Homo sapiens: one gene and its partner. The protein of the gene in region 2 interacts with the protein of the main gene of each other region in a pairwise test. Each region holds a gene or a part of one and is shown on either strand. Other genes may lie near its edges.

Region 1 (3,657 bases), on a different chromosome or scaffold from region 2:
CCCAGATAGGACTTTGGATAAAGTTTACTAAGAAAGGCACTGGATGAGAGAAATCAGGCAGCTGAGGATGACGATAAAATAAATAGAGGTATAGATCATGAGCATTTATTGTGCAAGACTGCAGCAAATTTTAGGCACAATAAACTCCATTGGGCATGGCTAAAAAGAAATGGAGTGTTTTTGTGCAATAGTTTCCATAAATATATCATGCATACATTACCAATTTCCAAATACCTAAATGCTCACAAACCCATCTCTTACTCGAAGAAATTCTATAAACTGACCTAGACACAGTGATGAATTCATGGAACTAATCTCTCAAGTAAGGAGCTAATATATATAAATATATATATATATATTATATATAAAAGACTATTTTTGGAGCAGATTTAGGTTAACAGAAAAATTACAAAGAAGGTAAAGAGAGAGTTCCCACATACCACCCTGCACATACACAAGGTTTCTCCTGTTATTAACATCTTGCCTCAACGTGGTACATTTGTTACCACTGAGGAGCCAATATTCTTACATTATTAAAGTTCATAGTTACATTGGGGCTCACTCTTTGTGTTGTACAGTTCTATGAGTTTTGACAAACGTGTAACGTCCTGTGTCCACCGTTACAGAATCATACAGAATGGTGTTGCCGCCTTAAAAAGTCCCTGTGTTCCACCTATTCATCCCTTCCTTTCTCCTCCTAAACTGTTGGCAAACACTGATCCTACTATCTCCAGTTTTGCCTTTTCTAGAATGTCACATAGTTGGAATCACGCAGTATGTAGCTTTTTCAGACTGACCTCTTTTATTTAGCAATATACATTTAAGGTTTCTTCGTGTCCTTTTGTAGCTTGATAGCTCATTTCTTTTTAATCACTAAATAATACTCCATTACATGGATGTATCACAGTTTATTCATTCACAGATTGAAAAACCACTTGGTATTTCCAGCTTTGAACAAATATATGAATAAAGCTGCTACAAACATTTGTGTGCAGGTTTTTGTGTGGACGTAAGTTTTTGTTCATTTGAATAAGTATAATGTTGTATCATTTGAAAAGCTGTGGTTACCATTGTAAAAAACTGCCAGACTGTCTTCCAAAGTGACTGTACCATTTTGCATACCTATCAGCAATGAATGAGAATTCCTGCTTGTCGTTCCACATCCTTTCCAACGTTCAGTGTTTTCAGTGTTCTTTTTTAAAACTTTAGCCATTCTAATAGGTATATAATGATATCTTGTTTTAATGTGCAATTCTCTAATCACATATATTAATAATCTTACCATCTGTTTATCTTCATTGATGACATATCTGTTCAAATCTTTTGCTCATTTTGTAATTAGGTTATTTTCTTATCATTGAATGTTAACAGATCTTTGTATATTTTGGATACAAATCCCTTTTTCAGAATATGTTTTGCAAATATTTTTTCCTGTGGCTTTTCATTCTCTTAACAGTGACTTCCTCAGAGCAAAAGGTTTTAGTTTTAATAAAGTCCAATTGATCCATTTTTCTTTTCATAGATCATACTTTGGTCACCTGAATTTTCTTATCTTTTAGAAGCTGTATAGTTTCACAGTTTACATTTAGTTCTATAATCCATTTTGAGTTAATTTTTGTGAAAAATTTAAGGTCTGTTTACAGACTCATTTATTCGCATGCAGATATTGTTATACCAGCACCCATTTGTTAAAAAGACTATCCCTTCTCCATTGAATTGCCTTTGCTCCTTTGTTAAAGATCAGTTTCCTATATTTGTATCAGTCTATTTCTGGGCTATTCTGTTTCAATGATTTATTTCTTTATTCTTTCATTGATACCACACTGTCTTGATCACCGTAGTGGTAGTAATCAAGGATAGTGTCAGTTTTCAAAAACTTTATTCTTCCACTTCAATATTGTGTTGGCTATTCTGGTCTTTTGCTCTCCATATACACTTTAGAATCAGTTTGTCAATATCCATAAAATAACTTGCTGGAATTCTGAATGGGATAGTATTGAATCTGTAGATCAAACTGGGAAGAATAGATATCTTAATAATATAATATTAAGTCTCCCTATCCATAAATGTGGAACATCTTATTTCATTCAGATATTCTTTTATTTCCTTCATCATAGCTTCATAGTTTTTCTCACATAAATCTTGTACATATTTTGTTAGGTTTACACCTAAGGTTTTTGTTGTTGTCATTGTTTTTGTTTTGTTGGCACAAATGTAAATGGGCTTATGTTTTTAATTTCAAATTCTGGTTGTTCACTGCTATATATAGGAAAGCAATTGACTTTTTGTAAAACTTTGTATCCTGCAACATTGTCATAATCACCTATTTAAAAAAAAAACTTAATCAGTTCTTTGAGATTTTATACATAATCATATCATTTGTGAACAAAGATAGTTTTATTTATTCTTTCTCAATCATCTTTTATTATTCTTGTTTTATTGCATTAGCTAAGACTTCCAGTGTGATGCGGAATAGGCATGGTAAGAAGGAACATCCTTGTCTTGTTCCTGATCTTAGGGGGAAAGCATCTAGTTTCTTACCATTATGTCAGCTATAGGTTTTCTATGTTCTTTATCGCATTAAGGAAATTCCCTTCCGTTCCTAGTTTTTATCATGATTGAGCGTCGTATTTTGTCAAATGTGTTTTCTGCACTTATTGATATATTCACATTTTTCTTTAGCTAATTGATGTGATTACATTGATTTCTGAAACTTGAACCAACTTTGCATACCTAGAATAAATCTCTATTGGCTGTAGTGTGTAACTGTTTTTATACATTGTTGAATTCAATTTGCTAATATTTTGTTGAGAATTTTTGTATCTGCTCATGAGAGATACTGGCCTATAACTTTTCTTCATAGTAATTGTCTTTGCCGAATTTAGTATTGGGTAATGCTAGTCTCACCCGATTAGTTAGGAAGTATTATCTCTTCTATTTTCTGGAAAAGACTGTAGAACATTGATGTCATTTCTTCTTTAAATGTTTGGTAGAATCCACTAGTAAAACTATTTGAGCTTGGTGCTTTCTGCTCTGAAAGGTTATGGTTGATTTAATTTCTTTAATAGATCTAGGGATATTTAATTATCTGCCTATTAATTACACCTGCCACTGTAATGATCTCTTATTTCTCCTGTGTGAGCTTTGGCCAATGATATTTTGAAGTATTATTTCCATTAGGATTAAGTAAATATTCAAGATGATGACTACTATGAATTATTCAAGTCATAAAGAAGTCCTTGCGTATTAGGAGTTAGTTAGAAAAAATTTACCTTTGCTACCGGTAAAGGTTCTAATAAATTTGATTGCATATATTTAATCTACTCAAAAACTAAGTTCAGATTTGATTGCTGAAAGAGGCATAGAAATTTATTTTAAATTGACAGTGCCAAACAGAGCAACAAATTAATGAAACATCAACAACAGTGAGAGGCTTTTCATGTTTTCTTACAATCCCTTTTAAGATCAGAGAACATTTTTTCCCCAAAAATTTCAAAGGAAGAGTCAGAGCCAAAGCATTTTGAAAAGAAAAAGAGTTTACTTGAAAAGGTTCAAGGGAGTCAGACTTCAGAAAAACTGGATAAGCAAGTGAAAAATATAACAGGTATTTAAAGAAAAATATAAAGAAGATTACCATGATTACTAAGTTTGCATTAA
Region 2 (2,842 bases):
TCCTCCCGCCTTGGCCTCTTGGTCTGATTTTTTGTGTGCCTAGATAGACATATTTGGATACATACTTGATCCACCAGGGATCTCACAGGGGACAGGAGGTTCCCAGAGAATGAGGCTCCAGCCTTCCCAGTTTTCCAGCAGTGTCCTCCTGCCAGCCCTCCCTCAAGTCCCAATCTTGAATGACCCCAGCCCACTCTGTCCACAGGGCCGAGGGGGGCTGGGCTCCATCTTTGTCTGGGCCTCGGGGAACGGGGGCCGGGAACATGACAGCTGCAACTGCGACGGCTACACCAACAGTATCTACACGCTGTCCATCAGCAGCGCCACGCAGTTTGGCAACGTGCCGTGGTACAGCGAGGCCTGCTCGTCCACACTGGCCACGACCTACAGCAGTGGCAACCAGAATGAGAAGCAGATCGTGAGTCTTACCTGGGGGTGGGGGCTGGGGAGATGGGGCTGCTGGCTGGCTCTGTCCAGCACCCTCTTTTGGAGGCTGTCTGCCTCCACCCCCATGTGGCTGGGTGATAGTGGCTCAGGCATCATGCAACATGAACTCTGGGGCTCTGTAGGTTCTTGGAGGCCATGGAGCCATCTCTGAAGACTTTGAAAAGCCTAGACTCTCTCTAAAAACATACTTTGTTCTTATTCATCTCCACCCTCTAGTTGAACCCCCTTATTCCTTTGGAAAATGAGGCCCAGGAGGGGCTCGTCATTAGCATGTCCACGGCAAGTTAGCAAGGCAGCAGCTGGGACCTGGGGTTCTTGGCCCTGGCTCCCCATACCATCTGTGGTGCCCAGGGCCTGTATGCAGAGGGAGGGTAGGCAGGTGGCTCCTCTAGCCCCCTCCACCCATCACAGGCCCCAATATGATTCTCTTCCTGGCAGGTGACGACTGACTTGCGGCAGAAGTGCACGGAGTCTCACACGGGCACCTCAGCCTCTGCCCCCTTAGCAGCCGGCATCATTGCTCTCACCCTGGAGGCCAAGTAAGTGGGTGGGGGCCAGCGGCAACCCTGTCCCTACCAGCACTCTCTGTAGGGCAGCCCTTAGGGCAGCTGGAGAGCTGCTCCCAAAAAAGACTGATCCCCAGCCTCTCCCTTCCTTCTTTGCAGTAAGAACCTCACATGGCGGGACATGCAACACCTGGTGGTACAGACCTCGAAGCCAGCCCACCTCAATGCCAACGACTGGGCCACCAATGGTGTGGGCCGGAAAGGTGAGGGCAGGCTGGCCCGGCAGGCTGGATGTGGAGTTAGGTAGAAGGCACTCTGTGCCTGACAGCTGACCCTACCTTCCCTGTCCCCACAGTGAGCCACTCATATGGCTACGGGCTTTTGGACGCAGGCGCCATGGTGGCCCTGGCCCAGAATTGGACCACAGTGGCCCCCCAGCGGAAGTGCATCATCGACATCCTCACCGAGCCCAAGTGAGGGCTGGACCCAGGCTGGGAGGGGGCCAGTGGGACCTGAGAGTCGCAGGGGGTGCCCGCTGGTCCCTCTGGGCCAGGCTGACCATCATGGTGCTCTCCTGCACAGAGACATCGGGAAACGGCTCGAGGTGCGGAAGACCGTGACCGCGTGCCTGGGCGAGCCCAACCACATCACTCGGCTGGAGCACGCTCAGGCGCGGCTCACCCTGTCCTATAATCGCCGTGGCGACCTGGCCATCCACCTGGTCAGCCCCATGGGCACCCGCTCCACCCTGCTGGCAGCCAGGTGCTTGCTCTGTCCCTGCCCGCCCTGCCCAGCGCCGCCGCCTCTCACAGCCCGCGTGCTTGCCTTTGCTCGCTCACACGGCCCAGGGGGCACTGAGTGCTACTCAGTGGGGCACTCTTGGCATTTTGGGAGGGACAATTTTGTCCTGTGGGACTGTCCCATGTTGCAGGAATCCCTGGCTTGCAACCATTTAATGTCAGTAGTGTGCCCCACCTTGTGCGGTGCCTGTGTACCTTTCTAGAATCCCCCAGTTGAGCACGTCTGGCTCACTGAGAAACAGCCAAGCCAGCAGGCACTTCTGGCCCCATGGGGTTGGTCTGCGTGGGGGAAGGGTGTGTGGCCCATGTGCTGTGGGTTAGATGTCCCTGGCTTGGGGTCCCGCAGAGGCCTCAGGGCTGTGTGCACTCCCCTCCCCAGGCCACATGACTACTCCGCAGATGGGTTTAATGACTGGGCCTTCATGACAACTCATTCCTGGGATGAGGATCCCTCTGGCGAGTGGGTCCTAGAGATTGAAAACACCAGCGAAGCCAACAACTATGGTACTGGGGGCACTTGAGGGGTAGGGGTACGAGGTGGAGGGCTGGCAGGATCTCGAGCACTGGGTGTGGTGCCAGCACTGTCTTAACTCTTGCCTCCTCCCCGCTCTGGAACAGGGACGCTGACCAAGTTCACCCTCGTACTCTATGGCACCGCCCCTGAGGGGCTGCCCGTACCTCCAGAAAGCAGTGGCTGCAAGACCCTCACGTCCAGTCAGGCCTGTGTGGGTCAGTAGTGGGTGCTGTTGGGCTTTGGGGGCCTGAGTCTGGGGGTAAGGCGGGTGCCTGTCCTGAAGCCCAGCTCTAACAGAAAAAAGTCTCAAGAGACCTAGGGCCCCTGGGGCTCTTGGGATGACCACAGTCCTGGGGCTGGAGGATCCTGGGGATGTGGTGACTTGGCTTGGGGCTGCTGTGGTCCTGGGGCTACAGTCTGTTTAGCTGACACACACTTGCCCTCTCTCCCACGCCGGCAGTGTGCGAGGAAGGCTTCTCCCTGCACCAGAAGAGCTGTGTCCAGCACTGCCCTCCAGGGTTCGCCCCCCAAGTCCTCGATACGCACTATAGCACCGAGAATGACGTGGAGACCAT

Evidence for each region.
Region 1: the proteins of FURIN (region 2) and MARCHF1 interact in a protein complementation assay, tested with the Homo sapiens proteins (2 studies listed by BioGRID).

What each region holds. Positions count from the first base shown.
Region 1 is NC_000004.12:163,530,383-163,534,039, reverse strand, and holds part of MARCHF1 (E3 ubiquitin-protein ligase MARCHF1), read left to right. Parts: intron 1-3,657. UniProt on the Homo sapiens protein: E3 ubiquitin-protein ligase that mediates ubiquitination of TFRC, CD86, FAS and MHC class II proteins, such as HLA-DR alpha and beta, and promotes their subsequent endocytosis and sorting to lysosomes via multivesicular bodies.
Region 2 is NC_000015.10:90,878,559-90,881,400, forward strand, and holds part of FURIN (furin isoform 1 preproprotein), read left to right. Parts: intron 1-205; coding exon 206-418; intron 419-885; coding exon 886-986; intron 987-1,112; coding exon 1,113-1,216; intron 1,217-1,308; coding exon 1,309-1,426; intron 1,427-1,535; coding exon 1,536-1,715; intron 1,716-2,132; coding exon 2,133-2,257; intron 2,258-2,371; coding exon 2,372-2,482; intron 2,483-2,727; coding exon 2,728-2,842. UniProt on the Homo sapiens protein: Ubiquitous endoprotease within constitutive secretory pathways capable of cleavage at the RX(K/R)R consensus motif. Mediates processing of TGFB1, an essential step in TGF-beta-1 activation.